4 separate regions of the Homo sapiens genome follow, and regions 1, 2 and 3 are each linked to region 4. The links come from fine-mapping of genetic effects on gene expression. A gene starts in region 4. Each other region holds a variant in brackets. All regions are shown on one strand. Distances are between the middles of the regions. Region 1 overlaps TOM1 (target of myb1 membrane trafficking protein). Region 2 has its middle 66 kb from the start of MCM5. Region 3 has its middle 16 kb from the start of MIR6069. Region 4 holds the start of HMOX1 (heme oxygenase 1).

The links. PIP is the estimated chance that this variant, and not a neighbour inherited with it, causes the effect.
Region 1: its variant is fine-mapped to the expression of HMOX1 in whole blood (INTERVAL, PIP above 0.99).
Region 2: its variant is fine-mapped to the expression of HMOX1 in whole blood (INTERVAL, PIP above 0.99).
Region 3: its variant is fine-mapped to the expression of HMOX1 in unexposed skin (GTEx, PIP above 0.99). The same link has a PIP of 0.9 or more in sun-exposed skin.

Annotation. Positions count from the first base shown.
Region 1 is chr22:35,319,219-35,327,319 of GRCh38, forward strand. TOM1 (target of myb1 membrane trafficking protein) reads left to right here. Exons shown (of 15, transcript NM_005488.3): 3 at 2,741-2,819; 4 at 3,810-3,959; 5 at 4,278-4,412; 6 at 4,550-4,696; 7 at 8,053-8,101. Among named protein-coding and RNA genes, the nearest start is that of MIR3909, 12 kb to the right of the region's middle. RefSeq lists enhancers at 1-378, 3,712-4,911. The variant G/A (reference allele first, on the strand shown) is at 4,090.
Region 2 is chr22:35,461,867-35,469,967 of GRCh38, forward strand. No RefSeq gene overlaps it. Among named protein-coding and RNA genes, the nearest start is that of MCM5, 66 kb to the left of the region's middle. The variant T/G (reference allele first, on the strand shown) is at 3,751.
Region 3 is chr22:35,348,933-35,357,033 of GRCh38, forward strand. No RefSeq gene overlaps it. Among named protein-coding and RNA genes, the nearest start is that of MIR6069, 16 kb to the left of the region's middle. RefSeq lists enhancers at 385-917, 918-1,450, 2,041-2,549, 2,116-2,235, 3,367-4,242 and 2 more and a silencer at 1,896-2,015. The variant C/T (reference allele first, on the strand shown) is at 3,242.
Region 4 is chr22:35,377,001-35,385,101 of GRCh38, forward strand. It overlaps HMOX1 (heme oxygenase 1), which reads left to right and starts at 4,096. Exons shown (of 5, transcript NM_002133.3): 1 at 4,096-4,196; 2 at 6,106-6,226. The coding sequence starts at 4,174. RefSeq lists enhancers at 1-736, 1-381, 343-582 and silencers at 3,817-3,896, 4,197-4,366.

The DNA of each region.
Region 1 (8,101 bases), 58 kb before region 4:
CCTTGGGGACAGCAAGCCCCCATGTCCCTTATAAACATGGGAGGAACAGGCTCGGCGTCGGTCAGGTGCATTGCTATTTATTTGAGCACTTTGTGTGTTCCAGGCAACACAGGAGGCACTAGGGACCCAGCAGTGATCAAAGGCAGGCATGACCCTTGACCTCACCAAGCATGGCACCTAAACTTAGCCTCGTTGCTAAAGTGTCTCCCCCACTGGGTTGTGGCCTCCTTGTCATACACTTTGTGCTCCCAGCAGAGTACCGGACATCATGGGCCCACAGCAGTGGCAAGGCCAGAACTTCCGATTCCCAGTGCTTCCCTCTAGGGAGAGAAGGCGTCCAACAAGGACGCTGTCCCTGCGCTCTAGGAGGCTTCTTCTCTCCCAGGGTGGGCCCCCAGGTCAGTGGCGCATGGCGGAACATGCCAGGGAATGATTCTGATTCCCTTGTGTCTAGGCCACCCTAGAAGAGGTGGAAAGAAGTCACTATAAAGCGCTGAAGTAGCCCGTGGGTCAGTGGCCAGGCCAAGACCAGGAGCCAGGGACGGGCGAGGGGCTGCCCAGGGAGGCAAGGGTTGGAAACTGCTCTCAGGCTTCTGGGCCAGGACCCCCCTTGGTGGGCCACCATCCCTTTCCCCACCGTGTCCCTTCCACCGCAGGCCTGACCGCCTCCATAGCTCTAGCCCCCAGGCAGGCTCTGTCCCTAGGAAGCCTTGCCTCTGCCTTCACTCCTGCTGAGAACCAGTGCCAGGGTTCCAGGCTCTCCTGCCTTAGTCCTGGATGGGGTCAGCACTGACAGCCAGGCAGACAGCCGGATGGGTCCCAGTGGCCACTGGCCAGGCTGAGAAATGTTACTTGTGCTTCAGTAGTGTGATGGGCTCTAGGAAGGGAAGCTGTCCAAAGAGAACACCATCCCTGCCCTCTAGCAAGCTTCTTCTCTACCCAGGGTGGGCCCCCAGTTCAATGTGGCATGGCAGAACAGGCCAGGGAGACTGGAGGACCTGGGAAAGTGTTGTGGAAGGGGTGGATTTTAGCTGAGGCTTCACCTCATGGATGTGGAGGTCAGGAGCCTTCAGGGTGCAAGTGGGGGCCCTGCACAAAGGCTTTTAGACAAGAGCAGTCAGGGCAGCACTGAGTATACCTGTATAGGGCCGAGGGTGGAGGATGGTGGGAATCACAGAGGGGACAGGGAGAGCAGGCTGGCACCCCAGCTTCCAGGGGCCTCCCAACACCGTGACCCCTAGGCTTCTTCAGCCCTCCCCGACCTCCCCCACACTCAGTGTGGCCTCCTCTTAGTTCCTCCAAGGCATCAAGCTCCTCTGCACCCAAGACCTTGGTCCAGGCTCTGACCTTGACCCAAACTGCTCTGCCCCCACTCCCCCCAGGTGGTCCTTCCCATCTTTCAAGGCCCAACTACAAGACCACCCCCTCGGAGGTCTTTTCTGACCACCCCCATCCTCACCTCTGCTCTTTTTCCAGGACCTGCTTATTCCTTGCTCTTCTTTGGATCTCCCCGCAAGGTGGGGAGGAGGCAGGGCCATATGGTCTTGTTTGCCACTGTGTCCCCAGCACCTAGCATGGTGCTACATACATATTGGGTGCTTAATAAGAGTTGAATGGGCCAGACATGGTGGCTCACACTGGTAGTCTCAGCGTTTTGGGAGGCTGAGGCAGGAGGATCACTTGAGCCCAGGAGTTCCGGGCTACAGCGAGCTGTGATTGCACCACTGCACTCCAGCCTGGGCGACAGAGTGAGACTCTGTCTCAGAAGGAAAAAAAAAAAAAACTTGAATGGAAGGGTAAATGGACAGATAGAGCAGCTGGCCAGGACGGGGCATCAGAACACTATGCTAGCTGGGCTCAGGGACTCATGCCTGTAATCACAACATATTGGGAGGCCGAGGTGGGAGAATCATTTGAGCCCAGGAGTTTGAGACCAGCCTGGGCAACATAGCAAGACCCCATCTCTATTTTTGTAATGAAAACATTATGCCTCCAGGTTATTTGTTCTTAAACTTGAGCATGCATAAGAAACCCTTGGGGAGCATGAGAAGCATTCAGATTCAGGGGCCCCACTCCCTGAGAATTTGGTTCAGGTGGTCTAGGGTGGGGACCTAGGGTTCTGCTTTTTTTTTTTGAATGTCCTTTGTTTTTTTGAGACAGGGTCTCACTCTGTCGCCCAGGCTGGAGTACAGTGGCGCAATCTCGGCTCTCACTCTGTTGCCCAGGCTGGAGTACAGTGGCGTAATCTCGGCTCACTGCAACCTCTGCCTCCTGGGTTCAAGCGATTCTCCCGCCTCAACCTCCCAAGTAGCTGGGATTACAGGGTCATACCACCACGCCCGGCAAATTTTTGTATTTTTAGTAGAGACAGGGTTTCACCATGTTGGCCAGGCTGGTCTTGAACTCCTGGCCTCAAGTGATCCACCTGCCTCAGCCTCCCAAAGTCCTGGGATTACAGGCATGAGCCACCGCGCCCGGCCAGGTTCTGCACTTTTAACAAAACGCTCTCATCTTTTCTCAAAGTGACTCTGCTGCTGGAGGTCCAGGGGCCACAGGTTGTGAGTCCCTGCTAAGCAATGGGCTAGGAAGATTCTGATGTGATCAGAACCTGGCTGGATACACAAAACAGGTGGGGCACAGGGAGGATGGGCCAATAAGAACTGTTCCAACTCTCCAGGGTCTCTGGTGTTAGGTAAGGGGGCTCTATTCCTAAGCCCACCCTTTTTCTTGTCCTCCTTAGTCCCAAAGATGCCCTCCGAGCAGTAAAGAAGAGAATCGTGGGGAATAAGAACTTCCACGAGGTGATGCTGGCTCTCACAGTGAGTGCCCCATCTGTCTGTCCTGTGGCAGGACTACGGTCCACTGAAAGTCACCTCCCCTCAGACCCAGCAGGACTCCCAGCCTCCTCTGAGCTCCTCATTTGAGAGCTGGAAAGGTCTGTAGGCAACGCACTGTCCTGTCTACACTGCAGGCGGATGCAGAATGGCAAGAGGCCATTTGGAAAGGTTCTCCCCAATCCCCCAGCATGGGAACAGACGCTTACATCACTCCAGAACCACTGGCAGGGAGAGCCTGGGCCAAAGGACCTGTGGGTGACATTGAAGCTCAGTAAACCCAGGCCTCCGCGGGGGCAGGGAGGCCGGCTGACTGAGTTGGGTGCTGCTCGGCACTTTGGTGCTCTGGCAAATGAATGTAAAATAAATACCAGTGGCTGAGAACAGTCTTGCCCACACCACTGAACCAGCCCAGATCTCAGGGCGGCCAGACACACGTGGGCCTCCTAGCCGTCAGCATGGGTTTGGCTGGGGAAGATATAAATGCTGTCCCACCCTCCTCCACAAGCAGCATTTATATCCAGGTGAATTGGCTTAAGCAAAAAGCAAAGGCAATTCCTGCAGTGGGAAGTGGAGAGTGGGGAGGGAAGTTCAGTGCCTTTTCCCTGGGCCACAGGCTCACCAGTCGATTGACATCTCAGATGCTCCTTGATTTCCTCTTGGAGAGCCCCTTCTCTCTAGACCATGTTTAGCTCAGAGACAGCATTGGGATTCTGCGTGCACTGACGCCAGTCAGGGAAGGAAGTCCAGCCCACACACCATACCTCTGCCCACCCTAGGCCGTGCCCTCCAGTAAACAAGTCCCCCAGTCCTGGCATTGTCCCAGTCCTCCACATTCAAGGGTCTCACTCCAGGAAGTCCCATCTCCTCTCCCGGGCCTCCTCTCTGGGACACAGGAGGAGCCACGAGGGTGGGGGTTCTGAGCACCTCCTCTCCTCTGACCAAGGTGCTCGACGGCACCTCTCGGCCCTCCAGGTCTTAGAAACCTGTGTCAAGAACTGCGGGCACCGCTTCCACGTGCTGGTGGCCAGCCAGGACTTCGTGGAGAGTGTGCTGGTGAGGACCATCCTGCCCAAGAACAACCCACCCACCATCGTGCATGACAAAGTGCTCAACCTCATCCAGGTGAGTGCCAGGACAGGGCAGGGCACGGCCAGGAAGAGCTGTCAGTGCAGGAGCTTCCTGCCCAGTGGAGAGTCGAGGCCATCGTGTTTGTCCCAGGCTCCGCTTCTCATTTCGGGGCGTCTCGGTTGTC[G/A]GCTGGTGGGATGTTCTGTGGGGAGGGAGGCTTGCCAACTGCGTGCTTTGCTGTGGAGTGGGCAGGGCAGATGTAGTTAAAAAAAAAAAAAAAGCAGGGAAAGAATGTCTGTTCTCTGTCTGAGTGCCAGGTGGGCAGGCTCACAGGTGAGCTGTGGTTACCGGCTGTGTCCCCTTGTCCCCTCTCAGTCCTGGGCTGACGCGTTCCGCAGCTCGCCCGATCTGACAGGTGTGGTCACCATCTATGAGGACCTGCGGAGGAAAGGCCTGGAGTTCCCCATGACTGACCTGGACATGCTGTCACCCATCCACACACCCCAGAGGGTGAGAGAACTGCCGTACCGGGAACCAAGGGAAGGGAGGCAGGACTCATCCCCAGAGACATCACCAGGCTGGCCCCTGACTTCCTGGGCTCTTGATGTTCCCAGGAGCCCTCACTGATCCTGTTTTCCTCCCACTAGACCGTGTTCAACTCAGAGACACAATCAGGACAGGATTCTGTGGGCACTGACTCCAGCCAGCAAGAGGACTCTGGCCAGCATGCTGCCCCTCTGCCCGCCCCGCCCATACTCTCCGGTGACACGCCCATAGCACCAACCCCGGAACAGGTAAACGAGCCTGGGGTCAGAACCGTCAGGTCCAGGCAGGTGGGCCACACACGTCAGGGAGGGCCCCCTGTCAGAATTTACCATCCACGGAGCCTCCACTTCTTCCTCACAGCAGCCCACAGGGTATGTGTGGTTCTTCCTGTTTGAGCGATGAGACTCAGAGAGGTCCATTCACTTGCCCAGAGCACACAGTCATCAGAGACAGTTGGGATCCAAGCTCACGTCTGTCTGACTCCTGGCAGGCACTGCCCTGTACCTTGGCCATTTTCCAACCTGTGTTTTCTGCGGGGCCCTCCAACAGCACCATGGAGAGGTGTCCTGTACGCAGCCCCTTCAGGCCAGCTCCACCTGTGTGGTTTCTTACACACTCACAGCTTTCATTTGAGCTGGGCATGGTCACGTGCGTCTGTGATCTTAGCTTCTCAAAGGTTCAGGCAGGAGGATGGCTTGAGCCCAGGAGTTTGAGACCAGGCTGGGCAACATAGAGAGACCTGTTTCAAAAAAAAAAAAAAAAAAAAAAAAGGCTTCATTTGAAGAGAGGTTCTGCCTGAAAAGTTTTCAAACATCTGTGCAAAAAATAAAAAACATATGTACATTGTACCATGCTGCTTCCCATGAAGTCTCAAGAAGGTCTGAAGCTTTTTTGTTTGTTCTGAAACAGTCTTGCTCTGTCACCCAGGCTGGAGTGCAGTGGCACCATCTAGGCTCACTGCAACCTCTCTCTCCCAGGTTCAAGCAATTCTCCTGCCTCAGCCTCCTGAGTAGCTGGGACTACAGGCATGAGCCACCATGCCCAGCTAATTTTTTGTATTTTTAGTAGAGATGGAGTTTCATCATGTTGGCCAGGCTAGTCTCGAACTCCTGAGCTCAAGTGATCTACTCGTCTTGGCCTCCTAAAGTGCTGGGATTACAGGCATGAGCCACCACACCCAGCCAAGAAGGTTTGAGGCTTAGTATGAGATTCTAGGGGACAGGTTTTCCCAGCCCTCTGACTAGCTTTGAAGGATTACCCACCTCAGAGCAGGTGGCACCCTGGGCATGTCACTTCCTTCCTCCTCATGGCCCACTGGGCCATGAGCTGCTTGTGGAGTGCCATGGCTGCTGTATCTGCTGAGTGACTTCTACAGCCATGACCAGCTCGTAGAGCTGGGGGCTTGTCATTCTAGACTTTTGGCTGCTGGGGTGGGGGCAGAGGCCTGCACACTGTGGAGACACCCACGTTAAAGGTGTTGTACACACATCAGGCCCATCACATCCGCGGAGCGTAAAGGTGGAGCTGCTGAGTGTGCTGGTGAGTTAGACACGGATGTGTGATGGAAAGAAAAGTGAAGCTTAACTTTCCCAATAAGCGTCCCCACTGCCCACTTTTTGTATCATTTGAACTCATTCTCACCCTAACCTATTTGAAGAGAAACTTCCATGATTTGTTTTCTCATAGCAAGTTATGAAATCACCCCTCAGAGTTACAGATATTACTAGAAAATTTTGCTAACTGGACAAAATTATTAACGCACTGCCCGTTTGCCCCAAGAATACTCTTGTCTCTAATCCTAATGTAACCTCATATACATTTCTGTTACGTTAGGATTGGAGACAAGTTCTGTTTAGAAATAACTCCAAGAACAGTTTTTATGTTTTATTTTCATGTTGAAAATCAGTCAGGTTTACTTCAGCCTCAAAGAGCATGTTTATGTAAAATTAAATGAGTGCTGACAGCGAGCTGCACTTTTTTTTTCTGAGTGGGTTAAAGGTGTGTAAAAAATTGTAAAACCACCTTGTGATTGTCTAACTCAGTTATGATTTTAACCAATTTTCTGAAGTCTAGCATCTGTGTGGATTAAGACGCTAATTACTTCCAATGCAAGAAGGTGCTTGCTAAACAAAACTAATCTTTGTTTAATTCGAGAGTCCCCTTTTGTCTCTTGGGACATGTTAAGACATCAGGTGTGCAGTGATGTTACTCCCAGACTCCTCTGTAATTAAGTCCCATCTGATTTGGATACATGGGGTTTGTGATCAGTAGTTTTTCCACTCACTCATACCAAGAGTGTTCATTAAGTAAGCCAAATAGATCAAACATTTTGCAGGTTTTGGAAGGTGTCAGTGAACCATAGTGGATATACTACTAGTCTCTACACTCCATTTCTTCATCTATAAAAGCAGGGATATTGATGTCTACCATGGTAAAAAATTAAGTTAGCAATATATGTTCAATGCTTGGCACTTATTAGGTAGTCTATAAATGGTAGCTGCTGTCACAATCATGAATGTATATAGTGACACTCTGAAATCAACTATAACTCAGCCACATGATTTAGAATGTACCAGCATTTCTCAAAACATAAAAAGGTTCTTCAGTCAAATAAATCTTAGAAGCTTTCAGACTGATCTTTTCCCAGGCATTCCCAGTGTGCATGAGGGCATTAAACACCCTACAAGGTCCCACAGCATAAGATCCTTATACCAATGGCCTTTCACAAGCTAACCTCTTTGAGGAGACTGCAGCTTTATTGAAAATGTTTCCCCAAGCCCAACTCCTTGGAACCCTTTGACCATTGAAAACCTGCCCACATCCCTTGGAACAAGTGCTAAATCTGAGTTTCATATTCAAGGTGGGGTACAGGGCAAGGACTATCCTTAGATGAGCCTGGGACACCAAAATAGACCAGAAACAGGACAAAATCCCAGTCCACTAGGAGGAGAAAGAGGGCAGAAGCCCAGTCCACTAGGAGGAGAGAGAGGGTGGAATCCCAGTCCTCTAGGAGGAGAGAGAGAGGACGGAATCCCAGTCCTCTAGGAGGAGAGAGGGCGGGATCCCAGTCCTCTAGGAGGAGAGAGACGGCGGGATCCCAGTCCTCTAGGAGGAGAGAGGGTGGGATCCCAGTCCTCTAGGAGGAGAGAGAGGGGGGGATCCCAGTCTTCTAGGAGAGAGGGCGGAATCCCAGTCCTCTAGGAGGAGAGAGAGAGGGCAGAATCCCAGTCCTCTAGTGGGAGAGAGAGAGAGGGCCTGCAGCGTCCCTCCCCGCCTTGTGGGGAGCCACCCTCCAGGGCCTTGTTAGCTGCTGTGTTAGACCCAGGAGATGCTGGAGTCTTCCAGCCACACGTGGTGGCTCATTCCGGTGTGGAGATGGTAACGGTTGGTAGCGCCTCTGTGAGGGGTCTGTAGAAGGGGTGGGGCAGGCCTCTAGTGCAGAGCTGTCACTTTGGGAGCCAGGAGGGAGGCTGCCTAGAGAGGCTGCTGGGAGGTCGGCTCCCTGGTGCTGCACCCAGGGTTGGTGGTACTGGGTTCTGTCGCTGTGAGTAACATGGGCCCCAGAACCCTGGCTTCTCTCACCACGATCAACTGTGTGTTTCAGATTGGGAAGCTGCGCAGTGAGCTGGAGATGGTGAGTGGGAACGTGAGGG
Region 2 (8,101 bases), 85 kb after region 4:
GGCTCACTGCAGCCTCCACCTCCTGGATTCAAGTGATTCTCCTGCCTCAGCCTCCCGAGTACTGGGGACTACAGGCATGTGCCACCACACTCGGCTAATTTTTGTATTTTTTACTAGAGATGGGGTTTTGCCATGTTGGCCAGGCTGGTCTCGAACTCTTGACCTCAAGTGATCCACCCGCCTTGGCCTCCCAAAGTACTGGGATTACAAGCATGAGCCACTGTACCCGGCCCCATTTGCTTCTGATTATAAACATTCAAATTTACTCTTTGGATAGGTCATACGTGCAGATGGAACAAAATTCAATTCACAAGGCCCAAGGGTATCCAGAGAAACATCTTCCTCCTTCCCACACTGCCCGCCTCGGGCCCTGGCCACTGGCTGCTCTCCCCAGAGACCGTCCATGGGACTAGTTCTTTGGGTCTCCTGGTAGAGTTCCTGTCTTACCCACGTGTACATACTTAGACCAGAGCCTCCCAATTCTGGCTGCACACGAGAATCTCCTGGGGAGTTTTACAAAGTCCTGATATCAAGGCCCTACTCCACATCAATGGAACCAGAGTCTGTGGGGGCAGGCCCAGGCACTGGGCCACGCCGAAGCCTCCTGGCAGTTCGGATGTGCAGGCACACACACATCTGCCTGCACCCAAGCTCAGTGAGGAAGAAGGGAGGACAGAGGATGGGCAGCCCTGCCTGGGTACCAGACCCTCTCACATGCTCTTGTTTGCTTCTCGTGACATTCCTGCCAGACGGCATCATTGTCACCCCCCATTTCACAGGCAAGGAAGATGAGACTCAGGGGCCACACAACTGCCAGGGTCCCCCAGCCAGGAGTGAGGCCTGGAATCTGAGCCCAGGCCAGCTGCTTCTGACGTCTTCCTTCCTCGGGGCCATGCTGGTGGGAGGATAATAATAAAACCGACCCACAAAGATGTTGTGAGACTGAGATGTGCTAATGGAGAGGAAGGGCTTTGAAAGTCAGCCAAGTGGAGCTCTTACCCACGCGCAGGCTCATTAAAGTCCTGAGAGGGACACAGGGAGCGGGTGATTGCCCTATTTGCCTCTCCTTTGATCAAGTCCCCCTGTCTGCCTTCAGCTTCTGTTTTGCCTCCCTCTCCTGCCCTCCTTCCCTTCTCCTCCACCTACTACTTTCTCTGCCTTCCCAGCCCTTTGTTCTGGGCTGTCCTGCCCCCACCACCAACCCCTACCCCCAGTTTCTCCTTCCTTCTATCTTTATCCTTTGTCAGATCTGGTTTTTTAGTTTGCCACTCTGGCCCTGCTTGAGGGGCTCAGGGACTAGCCCACGGATCATAAGAACCAAGGCCTCCAACAGAGGATTTGTAGAGGTGATGTCACAAGTCTGCAGTTCTGAGCAGCAGGTGGAGAGAAGGCAAGTGGTCCCCCTGAGGCCCCAGACCCAGCCTTTCCAGGGCATCATTTACCCTATCCATCCATCCATCCATCCATCCACCCACCATCCATCCATCTACCCACCCATCGACCCACCATCCATCCATCCATCCATCCACCCACCATCCATCCATCGATCTACCCACCCATCCACCCATGATTCATCCATCCACCCATCCACTCATCCATCTATCTACCCACCCATCCACCCACTATCCATCCATCCATCCATCCATCTACCCACCCATCCACCCACCATCCATCCATCCATCCATCCACCCATCCACCTATCTATCCATTTTCCCACTCAGTTATCTATCCACCCACCCATCCACCTATCCATTCACTCATCCATCCATCTACCCATTCATCCACTCATCCATTCATCCATCCATCCACCCATCCACCCATCTATCCATTTGCCCACTCAGTTATCTATCCATCCACCCATCCACCCATCCATTCACTCATCCATCCATCTACCCATTCATCCACTCATCCATCCAGCCATCCATCCATCCATTCATCTGCTCATCCACCCATCCATTCATCCACCCATTCATCTACTTACTTACTCATCCATCCATCCATTCATCTATCCTCACTTTTGCTGTGTGCCAGGCCCTGAAGGCACAGCCATGAATAAGAGAAACACAGGCCCTCTTCTCATCCATCTGGAAGACAACAATTAAATAATTGCTTTAAACAAAATGCTATAGGACAGTGTCCTGCTCCGGTGAAGGTAGCCTTTTGTAATAGTGCTCTAGGTCAAGAAGAAGACAGACTCTATTTTAGCACACCAAGTGGTAGAACAGCAAGTCTGGCTGTCTTTGGGGAAGTCCACCCTGGGACCAGATCTCGGTGCTGGTCTCACCATCTCCCCTTCCCTACCTGCAGTGTCTGAAATCTTCCAGTGCTCTCCTGCCCCAACCCTTTCAACAGCAGAGGAAATAGAGGGACAGACAGAGGACAAAGAAGGGGCTCCAAGAAAGATGCTTGATGGTCATTGCAGAAGGCAAGGCCCAGGGTCTAGCTGTGAGGCCCTGTCCCTTGGTTGGGATCAAGTTGACAAGACAAGAGCAGCTGCCCCATGTGTGGCAGGAAGCTATTGCTGAGACCTGGAAGTTGAGTGATCATTATTTTGGATTCTGGCAGTAGGGAGACCATATTGTTTTGTATTTTGTTCCCACCCTCACACAGTAATGATGATGCCAGTGAGGACAACACTGGTTAACACTTCTGCGGGGGAGGTTTGCCCTGTACCAGGTGCAGTTATGTGCCCTGGATACCTATGACTAATTAGAGGTAGGGCTGCTGCCAGCATCCCTTAAACAGGTGTGGCCCCTGGAGGCACAGGGCTGTGAAGTAACTTCCTAAACTCACTCAGCTGTGGCAAAACCAAGCGAGGCCCTTGTAGCTGGGGTTACACTGGAGAGTCACACTCTTCCACGGACTGCCTCAACTACTCCACTCTGCCAACTCAACTATTAGCAGAATGGTGCCTGGGGTAACAGTGGACCACCAAGGACAGTAAAAGTCTCCAAGCACACTCTTTAGGCAGTGGCATGAGGTAGTGGCAGCTTGCCCTCTTCAGGGGGATAAGAGGATAGTGGCTGAGAGTGGTATCCTGGAGCCAGTCTCCTGGGTTTGAGTCCCAACTCTGCCTTTTACTACCGTGTGACTTTGGGCAACTTACCCTCTCTGTGTGTCATTTTTCTCATCTATAAAATAAGACCACTCACAGTGTTTCCGTCAAGGTTGATGTGAAGATTAATGGGATAATGGCGGTCAGGAGCTTGGCCTCGGTCTTATTTCTGTATCAGCTGGGGGACTGTGGGCAGGTACTCAGCCTTTCTAGACCCCACTTTCCTCTTATCTGGGATGAAAAGAAACCCAGCTGGGACCTCACACATGACAAAGGCTCAGTGAGGTGGAGAGTCCCAAGCAGATGAGAGGGATGTCTGGTTGCAGGGCAAAGGGACTGGGTCCTAGGAGTATTTGGATGCGTGGCTGGGTTGGATGAGGCAATCGACAGTGGACAGGCTGTCCTGGGAAGCCTGCTCCCCAGCTGCCTGGGGTGAATGCCAGGGCCTGCAGCTTTCACAGGGGCCGTGGCTGGGGCCAGCATCCGTGCATTCTGGGGCCTGGTCTTGCTGCCTCTTTGAACACTGGCTTCAGGTGTTCAAATTCCTATGGTTCAGTGTCCTCCCTGCGGTCCTGAGTAGCACTGCAGGGCTGTGGCCAGGAGCCCAGGGCTGGTGTTTGACCTTCTGGGCCTATGAGTGCCGAGGTGGCCAGGGCTCCTCTCGGCCTCCTCAGTGTGTTAGGTCTTTCTCCTTT[T/G]ATTTTTATTTATTTATTTGAGACAAGGTCTTGCTCTGTTGCCCAGGGTAGAGTGCAGTGGGACCATCGTAGCTCACTGCGACCTTGAACTCCTGGGCTCAAGTGATCCTAGGACTACAGATTCCAGTAGCTGGGCCTACAGACATGTGCCACCACATCTGGCTAGTTTTTTTGTTTGTTTGTTTTTGAGATGGAGTCTCGCTCTGATGTCCAGGCTGGAGTGCAGTGGCGCGATCTCAGCTCACTGCAACCTCCACCTCCCGGGTTCAAGTGATTCTTCTGCCTCAGCCTCCCAAGTAGCTGAGGATTACAGGCGCACACCACCATGCCAGGTTAATTTTTGTATTTTTTGTAGAGATGAGGTTTCACTGTGTTGGCCAGGCTGGTCTCAAACTCCCAACCTCAAGTGATCCATCCATCTCAGCCTCCCAAAGTCATGCCTGGCTAATTTAAAAATATATTTATTTTTATAGGGACAAGTTCTTGCTATGTTTCCCAGGCTGGTCTCAAACTTCTGGGCTCAAGTGATCCTCCTGCCTCGGCTTCCCAAAGTGCTGGGATTACAGGCATGAGCCATCCATCTGGCCGCTCTTTCTTTTTAAATTATTTATTGAAAAAAATTAAAAAATTTTTATGGGTACATAGTAGGTGTATATATTTACTGGGTAGATGAGATATCCATTACCTCAAGCATTTATCCTTTGTGTTACAAACAACCCAATTATACTGTTAGTTATTTTGAAATGTACAATTAAATTATTATTGGCTATAATTACCCTGCTGTGCTATCAAATACTAGATCTTATTCATTCCTTTTTTTCTGAGACAGGGTCTTGTTCTGTCACGTAGGCTGGAGTACAGTGCTGTGATCATGGCTCACTGCAGCCTTGACCTCCTGGGCCCAAGCAATCCTCCCACTTCAGCCTCCCAAGTAGCTGGGACTATAGGTGTGCACCACCATGTCCGGCTAATTTTGTTTATTTTTTACAGAGACAGGGTCTTACTATGTTTCCCAGGCTGGTGTTGAACTCCTGGGTTCACAAATTCCTCCTGCCTCAGCCTCCCAAAGTGTTGCTATTATAGGTGTGAGCCACCATGCCTGGCCTTATTCATTCTTTCTACTATATTTTTGGACCCATTAACCATCCCTACTTTCCCCTGCCCCCCAACTACCCTTCCCAGCGTATAACCATCATTCTACTCTCTATCTCCATGGTTCAATTGTTTTAATTTTTAGCTCCCACAAATAAGTGAGAACATGTGAAGTTCGTCTTTCTGTGCCCGGCTTGCTTCACTTAACATAATGACCTCCAGTTTCATCCATGTTGTTGCAAATGACAGGATTTCATTCTTTTTTTTTTTTTTTTTTTTTGAGACGGAGTCTCCCTCTGTCGCCAGGCTGGAGTGCAGTGGCACGATCTCGGCTCACTGCAACCTCCAACTCCCTGGTTCAAGCGACTCTCCTGCCTCAGCCTCCCAAGTAGCTGGGATTACAGGCGTGCGCCACCATGCCCAGCTAATTTTTGTATTTTTAGGAGAGACAGGGTTTCACCGTGTTGGCCAGGGTGGCCTCTATCTCCTGCCCTTGTGTTCTGCCCGCCTTGGCCTCCCAAAGTGCTAGGATTACAGGCGTGAGCCACTGTGCCCAGCCTTTTGCCCATTTTAAAACTGGGTTATTAGGATTTTTCCTATAGGGTTGTTTGAGTTCCTTATCTATTCGATTATTAATCCCTTGTCAGATGTATAGTTTGCAAATATTTTCTCCCCTTCTGTGGGCTGTCTCTTCGCCTTGCTGATTGTTTCCTTTGCTGTGCAGAAGCTTTTTAACTTGATGGGATCCCATTTGTCCATTTTTGCTTTGGTTGCCTGTGCTTGTGAGGTATTTTTCAAGAAATCCGCCCAGAACAACGTCCTGGAGAGTTTCCCCATCTCCTTTTTTTCAAGTCTTATGCTTATTTATATTTATAAATATGACTTTTAGGTTTTTTTGAGGTGTGATTTGCCTCTTTTCAGTGCACAGTTTTACAAGTTTTGAAAAACAAAGTCACGCAAACACTGCCACAATCAAGACACGGAGCAGTTCCATCACCCCCCCGAAATTCTCTAATCTCAGCCCCTCAGCATCCCTGGATGCCAGGCTTAAGAAGTGGACTTCCTTCCCCTGGCAGAAGGAGGGCAGGGTCGGGCTCCGCGTCTGGGGGCTGTAGGCAGGGCTGGGGCTGTGCCATCTGCCTGCTCCTTCCTTCTGGCTGAGAGCACTGGGAGGAGGAGCCTGCAGGCTGAGGACAGGCTGTGCTGGGAGCAGGAAGCAAAGATCCCAGGCCCCAGAGCAGCTTCTGACCTTTAGAGGCTGCCTTTGTCTTGGACAGCCAGCTCTCCAGCTGCCTGCGGGGAATGCCCGGGCCTGCAGCTTTCACAGGAGCCATGGCCTGGGCCAGCTTCCATGTAGGCACCAAACGAAACTGCAGAGCCAGGCATGGCCCTGGGGTGCTGGGCCACAATGCCAGGCTCAGGAAACCAGTGTCCTGCCTGACACTGGGCCCTGGAACGGCCCAGCGAACTCCATTTTTTTTTTTTTTCATGAGGAAGGCAGGAGATGATAAGACACCTCCTCATCACAGTGTGCTTTGATGAGCTCTGCTAGGTTGGTCTGAGACCACTGTCTGGAGCCTGAACACTGCCAGAGTCATCTTTGCGTCTTCAGGGGAAATGTACTAGTGAATTGGTTGCATGTGCAACAAGCACTTGCTGGACTCTGGGGCCAGAACTCCCTGGGTTCAAATCCTGGGCTTACCACTGAGGCTCTGTGGCTTTGGGAAAATTATTTAGTGTGCCTCAGTTTTCTCATATATGAAATGGCTATAATAAGACTAATACCTATCTCAGAGAGTCGTAAGGATTAAATGAAAAAACACACTTAAAACACGTAGAATGTCCCTTGGTAAGTGTTAGCTGGCATTAATGTTATTTTGTTTCGGTTGTTTTGTTTTTGTTTGTGTGTGTGTGGTGTTTTTTTTTTTTTTTTTTTTTTTTGAGACACAGTCTCACTTTGTCACCCAGGCTAGAGTGCAGTGGCACAATCTTGGCTCACTGCAACCTCTGCCTTCCAGGTTCAAGCTATTCTCCTGCCTCAGCCTCCCGAGTAGCTGGAATTACAGGTGCCTGCCACCATGCCCGGCTAATTTTTTGTATTTTTAGTAGAGATGGAGTTTCACCATGTTAGCCAGGATGGTCTCCATCTCCTGACCTCATGCTCCACCCACCTCAGTTTCCCAGAGTGCTGGGATTACAAGCGTGAGCCACCACGCCCAGCATGATTTGTTTTGTTTTGTTTTTGAGACAGAGTTTGGCTTTGTCGCCCAGGCTGGAGTGCAGTGGCGCAATCTTGGCTCACTGCAACCTCTGCCTCTCAGACTCAAGCAGTTCTCCAGACTCAGCCTCCCGAGTAGCTGGGATTACAGGCACCCGCCATCATGCTGGGCTAATTTTTGTATTTTTAGTAGAGATGGGATTTCACCATGTTGGCCAGGCTGGTCTCAAACTCCTGACCTCAGGTGATCCACCCACCTTGGCCTCCCAAAGTGCTGGGATTACAGGCATGAGCCACCGCACATGGCCCCCATTAATGTTATTTTTATTGTTATTATTATTAAGTGGGAAAAAAAACTCACATTCTGATTCCAGCTGTGCCATCAACTGGCTGTATGGTGCTGGGCAATTCATGTCCCCTCTCTGAGCCTTATGTTCCACAGATACCATTGCTGGACAATTTCAACAATAGAAATAAGAGTGATGTTTATAGAGTTTTCTGCTCTAGCATGGTGCTCTGTCAATTATATTTTTGTCTTATTTGATTCTCTCGAGAAGTCTGTATAGTAAAGTGTCATTACCCACATTTTACAGATAAACAAACTGAGGTTTAGAGAGAATAAATAACTCCCCAGGGTCACCTGTCTACAGCTGGGGGAGACAGAAGTTGAACCCAGACGGTCCTGAATCCAAGGCTCAGAGGTTCAACTCCTGCTGTCCGCTGTTCAGGTGAAGTCAGGGGAATGGACTCAGGGTAGCCAGGCTGGCTGTGTGGTCTGCCCAAGGCATGGGTGACAGCAGCAGAAGACAGAGCGGGGAGGTCAGTGTAAAGGCAGAGGGATGGGCAGGGCCTCTGCCAGCCCTTGACCTCCTGGAGAAGCCAGTGAGGCTGACCTGGGGGCCTTCCCTGGGACATGTCCCTCATCCTTCCTCTACTCGAGGAGCCCAACAAGATACATGCTTGTGCCTGAGGGTAGGGTTGTTAGACTTCCCTGCATCAGCACCTTGTCTTTTAAGCAAGAGAGCTGGAGAGGGCCATGCT
Region 3 (8,101 bases), 28 kb before region 4:
AGCCCTCAAGATGGAGTTGGGGCAAGGAAAGCAGCTGGGGGCAGGCACACTGGTGCCAGGCAGGGGAGGGGGAGGCCCTGCCGCCATCAGGATGCTCATGGTCCAGGCCAAGCTCCCTCTGCCACATCCAGGGCATCTGTGAGCTCCTGCCAGGTGCCCTACCCTGGCCCAGCCCTTTCAGTACCTCACAACAGCCCCAGGGGGTCAATGGTGTTGGCCACCAGTTACAAATGGGGAAACTGAGGCTGAGGGAGGAAGGGACTTGCCTGGTCATACACTAAGTAATGGAAGACTGGGACCCCCAACCTTCCTCACTGCTGCCTCACCTGCCTGCCCCACCCACACCCCACTGCCTGCTTCCCTCATTCTCTCCCTACTTAACTGGGGACCTCTTAGAGGGGAGTTGTGATTTTACAAGGATCAAAGCCAAGGCCTCCTCTCCCCTGTGTTAGCTGGGAAACCCAAGGAAACTTCCACAGAAGGCCCCCAGGGCTGGGAGGGCCTCAGGTGCTAAGGGTGAAAACTGCCAGGTTGTTCATTCCTCCCTGTGGGTGCATCCCCTGGGAGCCAGCTGCACACAGCATAGCGCTAGGTGCCCGCCAGACAGAAGTGAAGCGGCCAGGTGCCAGCCCTGTGGGGTCACGTGGGAGGGAAAGGGACGAGAAAGACAGACATAAACTCAATCATTGTTTCACGCTGTGAAAAGAAGAAGATGGGACGGGACGCCCAGGGCCAGGAGGCTCTCTGTGAGGACGGCCTAAGGCTGCTGAGGTAAGATGGGGTGGGCTGGGCCATGAAGGGCCTTGAATGCCAGGCAGGAGGTGGCCCCTGCAGAGGTCTCGGCTTGGCTGGCTGGAACAGTTCCAGGCTGCCTGAAGGCCTCCTTCAGAGAGAAGGCTGCTGGGGCTGCATGGGGGCTGGGGGGGGGGGCGCTGGCGGGAATTCATCAGTGCAGTCAGGCTGGGTTCCCTGGCAGCAGGCTCTGTCTGAGGCTGCAGGCCTGGGCGGGATCACTTTACAGCTGCAGGAAGTCTTGGCCCCAAGAAAATGAGGGCCAGCTGTCTGGTGGGAGCCTTGGGTAGGAGCAGGGCCTCCACCTGGCACCACAGGGCAGGATTAACGAGGTGCCGCCGCTCCCGCTGGGCCCAGCTACATCGGAAGGCGCTGGGCCGGGGGCATGGAGGGGAGGGGTTGAGTGGAGCTGGGAGGGGCTGGTGGGCAGGGGAAAGGGCGCCTGGGGGGCAGCCCCAGGCCTGCCTTTGAGGAAGCCTTTTGCAGAGCCTCCACCAAGCCCTCTCCCTCCTGGCTCCCCTGGGCCACCACGATCCCACCCTGGGCCTGGACACCGACCCCTCCACCTCCTGCCCTAGTGTCAGTACCCACCTCCCAGACCGGCCACTTCTGGGCTGTGTGACCTTAGGCAAATTACTTAACCTTTCTGTGCTTCTGTTTTCTCACTGGTAAAATGGGCAGATAACACTCGTTGCCTCATAGGGTTGTTAGGGTTGACTGAGCCAACAAGTAACTCAGCACCTGCCATGTAGACAATGCTCTGTACATGTTGTTATTGTCACGGATGGTTCCCTGCTCCCTTCCAGAATGGCCTCTGCTCCAGACACCTGGCTCAGAGCCCTGCCCCTCAGACTCCTCAGTAATTCTAGGGACCCCTGCTCTGCCTCTGGTATTGCCTTCCCAGCTCCAGAATAACGTCTGTCCCTACTCCCCACTGGGAGAGAACCAAAGGACTGTGTCTGTCTTTCCTCCTGGTCTGGGCTGCTAACCCTAAGAGGGTCAGGGCTGTCTTGATCCTGGCAACACGGCAGGGTCCCCCTGGCGTTCCTGGATTGGGCTCTGCGGGCTCTCGGTAGGCGCTTTAGGAAGCCTTTGCCCGCTCCAAGGTGGCTGGAGGTAGGCCCAGTTCTGAGTCCTGAGCACGGTCTACGGCCCCTGCTCAGGGTCAGTGTTTCAAGGCGACCACGAGATGGCAGTAGCACTGCATGTACAGGGCTTGCCGGGGCACTAGGGTGGAGTCCACCGCGGCCAAATCAGCCCCTCCCGGGTACAGACACCGGGAGAAAGGGGCGGGTGCTGCCGGCTCCTGCCCGCTCCTGCCCCGCGCGAGCTCACAGGCGCGCGCGTGCACACACACACGCGCACACGCCCTCTGACTGGTGGGGCTGAGTAACAATGGTGATGGGGCTGGGAGCTGGAGTCCGAGGGTCTGGCTTCACCGCCGGGCTCTGCTGTGGGACTACACAAGGGATTTCATCTCTGGAAGCCTCAGATCTTCTTAAACGTCCCGATTCACAGGGTTGTGGGGAGGATTTGGTGAGACAAGCTGGGAGCTCAGCTACGGGAGCTTTGGGTGGGCAAAAGTGAGCCCGGTCCCCTCCCTCTCTTTACAGAGCCCCGGTGTGCCGTTGCTGGGGCCCCCTGCTCCCGCGCCTTCTCAGCCGACACGCTCAGATCCGTGTGCATTGCCGTTTCTGTCTCCACGTGTAGACAAATCATGAGCTCGCCCAGTAACTCCAGCTCTACCACAGATTCCTTCTCTTTTCCGCCCTTCCCCTATGTCTAATTCCCTTCTCCAGCAGTGAGAAACCTGCTTCCCGCCGTCCTTCATTCCTTCTCTCCCCCCATCCCCGCAGAAACCAATCTCTGTTGCCACCACTGCCCCGTCCTGCCAGTGCCTCCCACCCTCTCCGCGTGGACCGCCACCACCCTGCCCCACAGACAGGCCCCTAGACACAGAAATCTTCTTTCTCACAGTTCTAGAGGCTGAAGTTCAACATCAAGGACGTGGACTCCATCTGTTCAGTTGGTTCCTTCCGGCCCCTCCGTGGCTGTATATGGTCATCTTCTCCCTGGGGCCTCACATCATATCCCCTCTGCATCTCTCTATGTTCAAAAGTCCCATTTTTATAAGGACAGCATTCATCAAGGATTAGAGTCCACCTAATGATCTATTGTACCTATTGTACCTTAATCACTTTTTTTTTTTTTTTTTTTGAGACAGAGTTTCACTCTTGTTGCCCAGGCTGGAGTGCAATGGCGCGATCTCGGCTTACTGCAACCTCCGCCTCCCAGTTCAAGCAATTATCCTGCCTCAGCCTCCTGAGTAGCTGAGATTACAGGCATGCGCCATCACACCTGGCTAATTTTGTATTTTTAGTAGAGACGGGTTTTCTCCATGTTGGCCAGGCTGGTCTCGAACTCCCAACCTCGTGTGATTCACCCGCCT[C/T]GGCCTCCCAAAGTGCTGGGATTACAGGTGTGAGCCACAGTGCCTGGCACTTCTTTAAAGGTCCTACCTCCAAATACAATCGCATTCTGATATACTAGGGATTAGAGATTCAACGTATGAATTCAAAGGGACGAAGCAGCCCTGTATTGCCCTCTGCTGCCCTCTAGGCCCTGGGTCCATTCTCCCAGACACACTGCTCTTTCGCAGGTGGCCACAGTGTCTTCAGAGGGGCTGCCACATGAAACACCCGCCTCCACTCCCTGCCCCCTGCCCCCTGCCCTAGTGGGAGTTTGAGGGTGGCTAGATTCATCCTAGGGCAGCCTAGCCTTAGATCCAAGGATTAGCCATGGGACCAGGAGCGAGCAGGGGTGCCGGCAGAGTGGAGGGAGATACAGGTGCTGGGAGCTGGGCTGGGGCTGCTCTCCTGGTCCCCATGTCCGCTTGTTTTTTCAGAGCAGACCCAAGCGGGTAAGCTGGCAGGTTTCACTTCCACCCACCCTGGTACAGGGCGAGACTGGAGGAAGCAGCTTCGCCGGGCCGAATCCTCACCCCTTGCCTCTGACTCAGGACTCCCGTGACGTCTTCCTGCCCCTGCTGCAGGCTGGCCCTGCACCCTCTGTGCACCGTGGACCAGGCTGGCCAGCAGAGGGAAGGAACCCAAGCTGACCAGGGCCCCAAATCCCCAGTGGGTCAGAGTCAGGTTGGCAGGGCACTTGGACCTCTTGAGGCGGGTGAGAAATGTGCAGACAGGGAAGTGGAGGCCCAGGGAGGGGAGGGGCCTGCCCTGACCAGTGTACTGCCTCCCTACCTGGTGCAGGGGCCCAGGAGGCTCTGTGTGCCAGCCCAGCCTGCCCGGGGAGGAAGCAGCCCCCACCCACGCACAAGCACAGGGAAGTCAGTGCAGGGTGGAGGGTGGGGACTCCTGGGGCCCCCTGTGTCAGGTCCAAGCACGGCCCAGGAGTCAGCCAACCGAGCTTCCAGCGGTGCACAGACACTGACTTCCTGTTTGATTTGGAGCAAGCCTTCTCCTCTCTCTGGGCCTCAGTTTCCCCATCTGTTAATCGGCTTGATTTAAGAGAGCGTAAGGCCCCTTTGCACTCTGCTTTTCTGCCCTATCAACCCCCAAATTCCATAATCCTCCTTCCAAAAAGGAAAGAAATACGAGGAAAGAAACTCAAATATCTACAAGAGAGGGAAGCAGGACCCCGGGTTTATCTCCCCTCCAGGACCAGCGGCGATAGGGAAACAACTGCCCAAGCTTCAGTGGGACCAATGGGTGGAGGCGGCCACCCACACACCCTGCTGAATGCCCGCACAGGAAGCTGACCGCCTAGGGGCAGGAGGGAAGCGAAACCCAAGCCGGGGACATCCTTGCACCTGCCCTGGGGTACCCCTAGGAAAGGGAAAAGCAAGTGGGTGAACTGAGGAATGGGGGTGCTGCCCATGCTCCCCACAGGACCCTGCCCTCACTGGAGCCCTTGGAAGCTCTGTTAAAAATGAATCTTCAGCCAGGCGCAGTGGCTCACGCCTGTAATCGCAGCACTTTGGGAGGCCGAGGTGGGTGGATCACCCGAGGTCAGGAGTTCAAGACCAGCCTGGCTAACATGGCGAAACCCTGTCTCTACTAAAAATGCAAAAATTAGCCAGGCGTGGTTGTGGGTGTCTGTAATCCCAGCTACCAGGGAGGCTGAGGCAGAAGAATCGCTTGAACCCGGGAGGCGGAGGCTGCAGTGAGCCGAAATCGCGCCACTGTACTCCAGCCTGGGCAACAAGAGTGAGACTCCATCTCAAAAAATATACAAATTAAAAAAAAAAAAAAGAATCTTCATTTTACAAAGGAGGGGGTGAGGTCAGAAAAGTCAACTAGCTAATCCAAAGCCACACAGCCGGCAAGTGGAAACATTGAGTCCTCTTTTCTGGGGAGAAAAGGTCCCTGGGGGATCAGGATGAAGTGCACTCTATTCTGGGCCTGGGGCTGCGCCTAGGTCTGCCTTGGGGCTAGAAAAGTCACTGTGTACATTATCTGTATGAGTAGCCCTGAGCCCTGCAAGCCACTTAGGCTGCAGAGGCCACTGGACCCCTGCAGGGAGAAGGCTGGCTGCTGAGATGGGGCCCTCCCTCAGGATCCCTTCTCAGGCCCAGACCAGTGCAGAGACTTGCCCAAGGCCACACAGCAAATTTGTAAAAGAACTGAAACTAGAATCCCGGTCCTCCATAGCACCTGCCCCGCAGGAGGTGGGCGAATGGAGGACAGCTGGGAAGTCTGTCTTCAGAAGGCCCTCCCCAGCACCCTGCACCGTGCTCTGGGCTCCCACAGAACTTTCAGCCTCAGAGACCAACTAGGCCAGTGGGTTCTAAAACCTTCTCTCCCCAAGGAAATCTTCTATCATGGTCTCTCCCCAAGACTATGGATTTAGAAGAGTTTTGTTTGTTTTGATTTTTGGCCACAAAACATTCCACAATGCATTGAGTTGTTAATATTTTTCCCTTTTGGGCATCAGTAATCAAGACTTTTTTTTTTTTTTTTTTTTGAGACAGAGTCCCGCTGTGTCCCCCAGGCTGGAGTGCAGTGGCGCAATATCGGCTTACTGCAACCTCCGCCTCCCGGGTTCAAGTGATTCTCCTGCCTCAGCCTCCCAAGTAGCTGGGATTACAGACACATGCCACCACGCCTGGCTAATTTTTGTATTTTTAGTAGAGATGGGGTCTCACCATGTTGGCTAGGCTGGTCTCGAGCTCCTGACCTCAAGTGATCCACCCACCTCGACCTCCCAAAGTGCTGGGATTACAGGTGCGAGGCACTGCGCCCGGCAGTAATCAGACTTTTAATACACCAATGCAGTATCTCGTTCCATCCAAAAGTGCTCCAGTTGCCTGGGCAGCCTCATCTGAGGGAACTAACAGCACAGCCTCTGTTTGCCCAGCCCCTCTGGGCCCACCCACTGTTTGGAGCAGAACCCCAACCCAAAAGGGCAGGAGCTGAAGATAGCCATGCTCACTGCTGGCCAGGGGCTCCCCCACGGCTCCTGCCAGCCTTGGCCTTCACACGCATTGGGCATCTCCATCGACGGCCACCCTGGCTTCTGCACCGTCCCCACGTAAACATGGCTCTGCCCTCCCATCCCCTCACCTCAACTCTGCAACACAGGGACCCAGGAGACAGAGGCAAGGAAGGGAGAGTGAAGGAGCTGGCCATACCCTCCTGAAGTGCTAAGGGGAGGGAGGAGGGGATATCAAATTCGATGTGAGATTAAACTTCAAGACTGGACTTTTTTTTTTTTTTTTGAGATGGGATCTCATTCTGTCACCCACGCTGGAGTGTAGTGGCGCTATTTCGGCTCACTGCAGCCTCTGCCTCCTGGGTTCAAGTGATTCTCCTGCCTCAGCCACCCAAGTAGCTGGGATTACAGGCGTGTGCCACTATGTCTGGCTAATTTTTGTGTTTGTAGCAGAGATAGGGTTTCATCATGTTGGCCAGGCTGGTCTGAAACTCCTGAGCTCAAGCAATCCACCCACCTCGGCCTCCCAAAGTGCTGGGATTACATGTGTGAGCCACTGCGCCAAGATTGGACTTTTTTGTACTTGAAAATGACAAGAAAGTTAGCAAAACCACCCAAGATGTCACAAAGGACCCTGGTGGAGGCTGGGCATGGTTGAAGACAATGGTTGGAGAAAAGGAAGCTCTCTCATGTCCATGTTTGTGCACAGGGACTTTGGATCTGCAAGCTTGGGGAGGGAGCTGGAGACAGCTGGACTGCTCTGCTCTTAAGAGGGAGGTGAATCCTACCGGGCCATCTGGAAGAGGGCCTGAGAGCACAGAGACAAGAACGGGGAAAGGGAAGAGAGAGAAGGCAGGAGAGGGTGAGCTACTGGGCCCCAGGCAAAGAGTTGGGGGAGGATCAGAGGTCAACTACTGGGGTAGAGGGAGGGAAGGGAGAGGAGTAGCCAAAAAAGATTCGGAAGAACAGATGCTGTATTAGATTGTTCTCTAGGTTCTGTCTAATGTCACCCCTCTCTGTGGCCCTGAGATCTTTAGTAAATGCTCTGCTCATAAGTATTTGTCAAGAGTAGGGTTTTGGGCCAGGCATGGTGACTCACCCCTGTAATCCCAGCACTTTGGGCGGCAGAGACGGATGGATCACCTGAGGTCAGGAGTTCGAGACTAGCCTGGCCAACATGGTGAAACCTCATCTCTACTAAAAATACAAAAAATTAGCCAGACGTGGAGGCGGGCGCATGTAATCCCAGCTACTTGGGAGGCTGAGACAAGAGAATTGCCCAAACCCGGGAGGTGGAGTTGCAGTGAGCAGAGATGGCGCCATTGCACCCCAGCCTGGGCGACAGAGTGAGACTCCGTCTCAAAAAAAATAAAAAAAGAGTAGGGTTTTGGGGAACTGGGGAAGGAGCAAGTTTCATGTCTGAGTCAGCACAGTTCAGAGCAGAAATAGGAAGAAGCTGGGACAGCAGGGTGGGGGAAGTGGTGAAAACACAAGTACCAGGGATTGCCGGAACCTTCAGGAGGACTTTGGGCTTTTACTGGACGTGAAGTTAGGGGAGGACTCTGCCCTTCCCTCAGTGACTTCTTCACATGCTGCCAAATACATTTCATTTTTTTTTTTAAAGAAATGGGGTCGTGCTCTGTTGCCCAGATTGGAATGCCGCGGCATGATTGCAGCTCACTGCAACCTCGGCTTCCCCCGTCCCCTCTCCCCTACCCCCTGCTCAAGCGGTCCTCCCACCCAGCCTCCTGAGTACCTAGGACTACAGGCACATACCACCACGCCCAGCTAATTTTTATTTTTATTTATTTATTTTATTTATTATTATTTTTTTAGAGGGAGTCTTGCTCTGTCACCCAGG
Region 4 (8,101 bases):
CTCCCTGCTGCCCAAACCACTTCTGTTTCCTGAAGGCGCCTTGGGAATGCTGAGTCGCGATTTCCTCATCCCCTCGTGCAGCTGCATTTCTGCTGCGTCATGTTTGGGAGGGGGGACTCGCGGAAACAAAGGGAAGGCGGATTTTGCTAGATTTTGCTGAGTCACCAGTGCCTCCTCAGCTTCTCTTTAGGTGGGAGGTGAAAGGGCAGCTTTAATGGTAGGCAGGAGGAAGTGAAACTTCTAGAAAACGGCAGAAGCCTCTTGTTTGTCTTTTCTAAGTCTGTGCCTTTCCCCTGCTGGGTCCCCCAGCTCCCACCCTGTGAAGTCCACCTCAATCTGCCCCTGATTTAATGTTGCAATCCACCGAGGCCTTCTTATGCTTCACATCTCTCTGACTTCTGCATCTGCCTCATCTCTTCTGCCTCCAGCAGGAGAAAGTTCTCTACTTTTTTTGCCTGGATAATTATTGTATTTTTAGTAGAGATGGGGGTTTCACCATGTTGGTCAGGCTGGTCTTGAACTCCTGACCTCAGGTGATCAGCCCACCTCAGCCTCCCAAAGTGCTGGGATTATAGGTATGAGCCACCGTGCCCAGCCTCATCCTCCATCTTCAAAGCTAGCAGCATGGCATCTCCCAGTCTCTCTCTCTGTCCTCTGCTTTCTTTGTCACCTTCTGTATGTGCAACCATCCAGCCTCCCTCTTATAAGGCCCAAGAGGATAATCCAAGATAATTCCCCATCTCAACATCCTTGACTTAATCACTTCTGCAAGATCCTTTTGCTATGTAAGGTAGCAAAAAGGTAACCTATTCACAGGTTCTGGTGATTAGAATGTGGACACCTTTAAGGGGCTTTTATTTGGCCCAGCAGGAGGAGAGAGAATAGCATTTGGATCATCCTGTTGCTTGACTAAAAAGAAGGGGAAGTCAGGAGGCTGAATCAGCATGCGAAAGGGCCACAAATTCAGCCCTGGGACAGCCTAGAGGACCAGAACAACTCTGGCCTGGCCTCTTGCACCCCAGCAACCCACTGTGTGGGGGGCTGTTCTAACGAAGTCTGGGGCTCCCAGAGAACAGTTAGAAAAGAAAGCAAGCCCAGACCGGCAGCCAGGAACCCTGGGTCACTGGAGGTTCTCTTTCCAATGGGGGGCATAGCCTGGCCAAGTCCCTCCTGCTCTTGGGGTCCCTGCTTCCCTGTGTTAAATAAAAAGGGTTCAGATCTCATGAGTTTTACCCTCTAGGGTCGCTGAATGGACAGACTCTGGATCTATACACGCAAACTCATCTCCCCTAAACTCCTGGACCCTCTGTGAGAAGGGTTGGAGTGTGGTGGTCAGGACTGTGGGGACTGGCTTCAAAGTGCTGTAGTTTGAATCCTGGCTCTTCCATCATTAACTGTATGACTTGGGAAAATGACTTATCCTCTTTGTCCCTCAGTGCTCATGTGGGCAAAATAGAGATGAAAATAGCTTGCAAGGCTGTTGTCAGGATGGGCTGCAATCACGCGCGTGAAGTCTCTGCACATAGTAAATTCTCAATAAAGGCTGGTTAGAATGACAGTTTGGAATTGTGGCTTGGTTCCAGCCCATTCTATCAGCCCAGCAATATTACAGCCTAACAATATTATTATTTTTTCCCAGAAAGAGACCTTGAAGCATCTATTCATTCAGGCATGCATTCAGTATTAACTGTGACCTACCAGGCACTATTCCAGGAACTGGGAATTTACAAAGCAAAGTAGTAGGCAAGGTCTCCACCTTTGTGCTTTACATGCCACTGTTGGGGCTCAGAAAGTGATACCAGGACAACTGGTGCTTTGACATGATGAGAGGCCTTAGGAGCTGCCTCAGAGTCAAGGTCCCTGTAAGCTTGTCTTGTTCCCCCGACAAGCACAGGGAGAGACGCTCTCTGGAATTTCCTTATCTGACCAAGAACACTTCTTTACAAAAGAAATGCAATTGTGTTAAGTCTTTTTTTCCTTTGAGACAGAGTCTCGCTCTTGTCACCCAGGCTGGAGTGCAGTGGCACTATCTTGGCTCACTGCAACCTCCTCCTCCTCCCGGGTTCAAGCGATTCTCCTGCCTCAGCCTCCCAAAGTGCTGGGATTACAGGTGTGAGCCACCGCGCCCGGCCAGTGTTAAGCCCTTTTTCTAGTAATCTCATCAAATATCCAGGAAAGATCAACCACTGGAGAGAGAAAGAGACTGGGAGTCATCACCAGACCCAGACAGATTTACCTGTTCTTCTGAGGACAGTGCCAAGAGATTACCTGGGGGACTTTATCTGCCTAGGACAACCTTTGTCCCTGTGCGGCTCCACCTCCACCTTCCCTTAAAGTCGGCCTTTCACCTCCAGGGCCATTCCTTCTTGCTAATGATTTACTGTCTTTCAAAAGAATTGTCTGCATTCCCTATCTCCCTTCTCCCCTATAAAAAAGGCTGGGTAGCCTCTGTACTCCACTGGGTTACAGGGTCACCATTCTTCCGTGATTACCCCATTACAATACATTTTTGTATGTCTTTTCTCCTCTTAACCTGACTTTTGTCGGTTGGTTTTCGGGGAACCTTCAGAGGAAGAAGGGGAATTTTTTTCAAGGCCCCTTAGCTCACCCTTGGGAGGATGATCCTTTCCAATACAATCTCAGAAGTGCCTCTGGGCTGTAGTGGCCCTAGGCTGAATTCCAGGAAGTTTTTTTTTTTTTTTTTTGTTTTTTTTTTTTTTTGAGGGACAGCGTCTTGTTCTGTTGCCCAGGTTAGAATACAGTAGCGTGGTCACAGCTCACTCCAGCCTCTACATCCCAGGCTCAAGTGAACCTCCAGCCTCAGCCTCCCAAGTAGCTGGGACCACAGGCATGTGCCACCATGCCCAGCTAATTTATTTTATATTTTGTAGAGACAGGGTCTCCCTATGTTGCCCAGGCCAGTCTCGAACTCAAAGCAATCTTCCCACCTCGACTGGGCTCAAAGCGCTCTTCCCACCTCAACCTCCCAAAGTACTGGGACTACAGGTGTGAGCTACCATGCCAGGCCTGAAAGCCATCTTAAAAAAAAAATCTTAGAATGAGAATCACAGTATTGGGAAAGGACTGTATGAATCATCTGGTCCATTCGTTTTGTCCTCTGGGTTCACCCAGTGACCCTATTTCCCCCGAGTTCTAAGGAGTCCACCTCATGCAGAATTGATTCAATAGGCGATCAGCAAGGGCCAGCTCTGCTCTGGGCCCTGAGCAGGCACTGAGTATAAGTCAGACCTGAATGTGCCTGGAAGAGTGTCCCACGCATTCCAGCAGGGAAGCAGTTTGTATGACAGGTGTCCCAGTCCAGGCGGATACCAGGTGCTGCCAGAGTGTGGAGGAGGCAGGCGGGGACTTAGTCTCCTCCCTGGGTTTGGACACTGGCATCCTGCTTTATGTGTGACACCACTGCACCCCTCTGAGCCTCGGTTTCCCCATCTGTAAAATAGAAGCGATCTACCCTCACAGGTCAGTTGTAGGGATGAACCATGAAAATACTAGAGTCTCTGTTTTTTGACAGGAACTCAAAAAACAGATCCTAAATGTACATTTAAAGAGGGTGTGAGGAGGCAAGCAGTCAGCAGAGGATTCCAGCAGGTGACATTTTAGGGAGCTGGAGACAGCAGAGCCTGGGGTTGCTAAGTTCCTGATGTTGCCCACCAGGCTATTGCTCTGAGCAGCGCTGCCTCCCAGCTTTCTGGAACCTTCTGGGACGCCTGGGGTGCATCAAGTCCCAAGGGGACAGGGAGCAGAAGGGGGGGCTCTGGAAGGAGCAAAATCACACCCAGAGCCTGCAGCTTCTCAGATTTCCTTAAAGGTTTTGTGTGTGTGTGTGTGTGTGTGTGTGTGTGTATGTGTGTGTGTGTGTGTGTGTGTGTGTGTTTTCTCTAAAAGTCCTATGGCCAGACTTTGTTTCCCAAGGGTCATATGACTGCTCCTCTCCACCCCACACTGGCCCGGGGCGGGCTGGGCGCGGGCCCCTGCGGGTGTTGCAACGCCCGGCCAGAAAGTGGGCATCAGCTGTTCCGCCTGGCCCACGTGACCCGCCGAGCATAAATGTGACCGGCCGCGGCTCCGGCAGTCAACGCCTGCCTCCTCTCGAGCGTCCTCAGCGCAGCCGCCGCCCGCGGAGCCAGCACGAACGAGCCCAGCACCGGCCGGATGGAGCGTCCGCAACCCGACAGGCAAGCGCGGGGCGCGGGACGCGGGACGGGCGCCTTTCTCTCCCAACCCTGCTTGCGTCCTAGCCCCACCCCGGGACACTGCCACACAGCGACAGAGCCCAGGAGCCAGAAACTTGGGCTCTGGAGTCAGGAGGTGCGGGGTTCTGATCCTGCCTGTGCCCGTAGGGTAGTTGGAGGGAGGAACGGTAATTTACATGCCTGGCACCCTGGTATGCGGTTGGTGACCAAGATGGGAGTGTCCCTAGAGTATCCAGTCTTTGAGGTAGCCAATTTTTTTTTTAATCCTACTTTCGAGGTGTGTTTGGAGTTGCTCTCTGCTGAATCTAGATCTCTGGGGCTCTGCCAGCCTGGGGGAGCATGCTTGGTTCTCTTGGTGGCATCTGTCCCTCACTAGCTACGGAGGACCTGAGCCAGACATCACCCTGGCTGCGGTGTTCCATGTCTCACAGATAGCCCAGTTCAGGGAGGCGACATGCCCAAGAGTGCTCAGTTAGCTGGTGTCAGAACTGGGCCTTGAACCTTGGTCTGCCCACCTCCAGGTCTCACTCATTCCCTTCTTTCAATAATTTGTTAGTATTTTTTTTTTTAACTCCTGGGCTTAAGCATCCTCCCACCTCAGCCTCCAGAGTAGCTGGGACTTACAGACATGTGCCATTTCTCCTGAGACTTTGACCAGCTGTGTTGTAGAACAGGGAAGCAGGGCAGGAGAAAAGGGAAAAATGACAATTCTGTGGGGAGGCAGGGATACGGACCCATGACAGAAATACTCCCAGAAAGACTTTTTCTTTGACTAAAGCAGACTTTCTCAGGCTTTTTAACCCTGACGCCTTCATGATGAGCATAACATGATAGGGGGTCATGAGATTTGCATCTGGAACTTTAACAAAATAACTGAATTAAATATTGGGTCTAAAAGCCAATCAAAGCAATTACAAACTTGGAGATGCCGGTTCATGGGGCTGCTGCTTCTTCCTGGGTTATGCTGTACCTCCTCCTCCTCTCCACTGCGAACTACCTGTACCAGGATTTCCCCCTTGGTTTGGGGGACTGTATTATTTAGTGTTTTAATGACTGAAGAGTGTTTACAAAGCTGCGAGAGCCACCATGCCCAGCCTGAATTTGTTTTTTGTTTTTTGTTTTTTTGTTTTTTTGCTTTTTTGCTTTTCTTTTTTTGAGATGGAGTGTTGCTCTGTTGCCCAGGCTGGAGTGCAGTGGCGCGATCTCGGCTCACTGCAACCTCTGCCTCCTGGGTTCAAGCGATTCTCCTGCCTCAGCCTCCCAAGTAGTTGGGATTACAGGCGCCCACTACCATGCCCGGCTATTTTTTTTTTTTTTTTTGTATTTTTAGTAGAGATAGGGTTTCACCATGTTGGCCAGGCTGGGCTCAAACTCCTGGCCTCAGGTGATCTGCCCGCCTCAGCCTCCCAAAGTGCTAGGATTACAGGCGTGAGCCACCATGCCTGGCCCTTTTTTTCTTTTTTTTTCTTTTTTTGAGATGGAGTCTCTCTGTCACCAAGTCTGGAGTGCAGTGGTGTGATCTCAGCTCACTGCAACCTCTGCCTCCGGGATTCAAGCAATTACAGGCATAATTGCTGGGATTACAGGCACCTGCCACCATGCCCGGCTAATTTTTGTATTTTTAGTAGAGACGGGGTTTCACCATGTTTGCCAGGCTGGTCTCGAACTCCTGACCTCAGGTGATCCACCTGCCTTGGCCTCCCAAAGCGCTGGGATTACAGGCGTGAGCCACCGTGCCCAGCCACAAGGCTGCATCTTAAAGCGATTGAGAACGTGGCCTGAATGAGGATGGGAGTCTCTTGAAGGCCTGCCCACAGGTGGGAGGCTCAGCAGTTGGGAAGGACCCCACCCCCAGCCAGCTTTGTGTTCACCTTTCCCATTTCCTCCTCAGCATGCCCCAGGATTTGTCAGAGGCCCTGAAGGAGGCCACCAAGGAGGTGCACACCCAGGCAGAGAATGCTGAGTTCATGAGGAACTTTCAGAAGGGCCAGGTGACCCGAGACGGCTTCAAGGTATGTGGCTTGGTGGGACTAGCCCTGGTGGAGGGTGTGGCAGGTGTGGGTGGACCCAAGGCTCAGACCAGTGGTTTAAGTGGGGATGCTGAGGGACCAGATGGGCATGTCCAATAGAATCATCTTAAAAATGATGACACTGAGGCTCAGAGAGGGAAGGTGAGTTACCCAAGGTCACACAGCAAGTTCAGCCTGCTCTGTAATGTTGTGGAGGGGCTGGGGCAGCAGTGCCGTTGACTGAGCACCGGTTCCATGTTGGGCATTTTGTACACGTGGTTTCTAATCTGTGCTTCAACCCTGACGAGAAAGATGAGGACTGGAAGGCTCAGAGAGGTTCAGTGACTAACAGAAGGTCACACAGCCAGTAAGTGGAAAAGGCTGAAATCAACCAAGACCGATTTCAGCCTTGTACTCCTTGTATTTCAGAGCTTGTACTCCTGATCTAACTCGAATTTGCCTCTGAAGATAAGGAATAATATAGGTTGGAGTCTTAACAGAACCCTTTTCTAACAGTGAGACTGAGGGTGCCTCATCTAATCTCCCTAAGCCACGTTTTCCCCATCTGTAAAAGAGTATTTCAACAGCAGGGTTTTCTTAAGCACCCACTATATGCCAGGTACTGATTTTGCTGTTTCCCAGCACTGTTGTGAAATTCATGCAAATAGAAGGAAAGCACTTGATGAAGAACCGGGAAGATACTGGGTGTTAAAACATCAGCGTGGGGAAGAGCTTGTTCAGGTTGAACAGAGGGTGTGGGGGTGGGGAGTAGGGAGCTATATCCCACCACCTTCATCCCAGTCCCTTTTGCAATCTGCACCCTCTGCCACCCCCTACTTCCAACATGAGACATGCTTTATTTATTTTATTTTATCTGAGACAGAGTCTCACTCTGTTGTCCGGGCTGGAGTGCAATGGCAAGATCTCGGTGCCCTGAAACCTCCGCATCCTAAGTTCAAGCGATTCTCCTGCCTCAGCCTCCCAAGTAGCTGGGACTACAGGTGCCCACCACCACACCTGGCCAATTTTTGTATTTTTTTAGTAGAGACAGGGTTTTACCATGTTGGCCAGGCTGGTCTCGAACTCCTGACCTCAGATGATCCACCCGTCTTGGTCTCCCAAAGTGCTGGGATTAGAGGTGTGAGCCACCACCCGGCCGAGACATGCTTTAATGAGGAGAGATTTAATCTGTGGTTCCAGGCTGGGTGGGGTCCTTGGGCCTGTAATGGGTCTTCCTCATCCTCCTCCCCTCTCCCTTAAAAAGATGAGGTACACCCAGTTGCTGCAGTGTGACTGGAGACAGTGGGTGCAGGGAGGTGAATGCTGGAATATCCCATCCCCAGCCAGCTTAGACTTTGGATTTTGCCTCTAAGTCACAGGGTTCTAAGGAGGCGCCAAGATCCATGAGAGAATCCAGTGCTCACTTACATTAAGCTGGTGGACGTGGCACTTATCACAGCCCTTCTCATGTGAGCGCTAAGTGCCAGGCTGCCCTCTGTGCTGGCCCAGATCCTCTCACTTAATCCTCACACCAGCCCCATCTAGTATGTGGCAGGTGAGGGAACTGACTAGCACAGTTGGCTAGCACAGTCACACGGACCTCAGATCATCTGCTCTAGGATAGGATAGGAAGCTGGGACCAGAGAAAGCAAGTGGCTCACCCATGGTCACACAGTTAAGGACTGGCAGAGTTGGGTAAGAACCAGGTCCGTCACACTCAAAAACCCAGGCTCTTTTGTACCAGACTGCCTGGCTTTCTGTCCCCTCAAGGAATAGAGCTGCTTTGAATGTTTGTGGCTCAGAAATAACTCAGAAACTCCAACCTAAATGTCTTAACTTTGTTCTCCTTCAAATTTAAACGGGCGTATTAATGTGTAA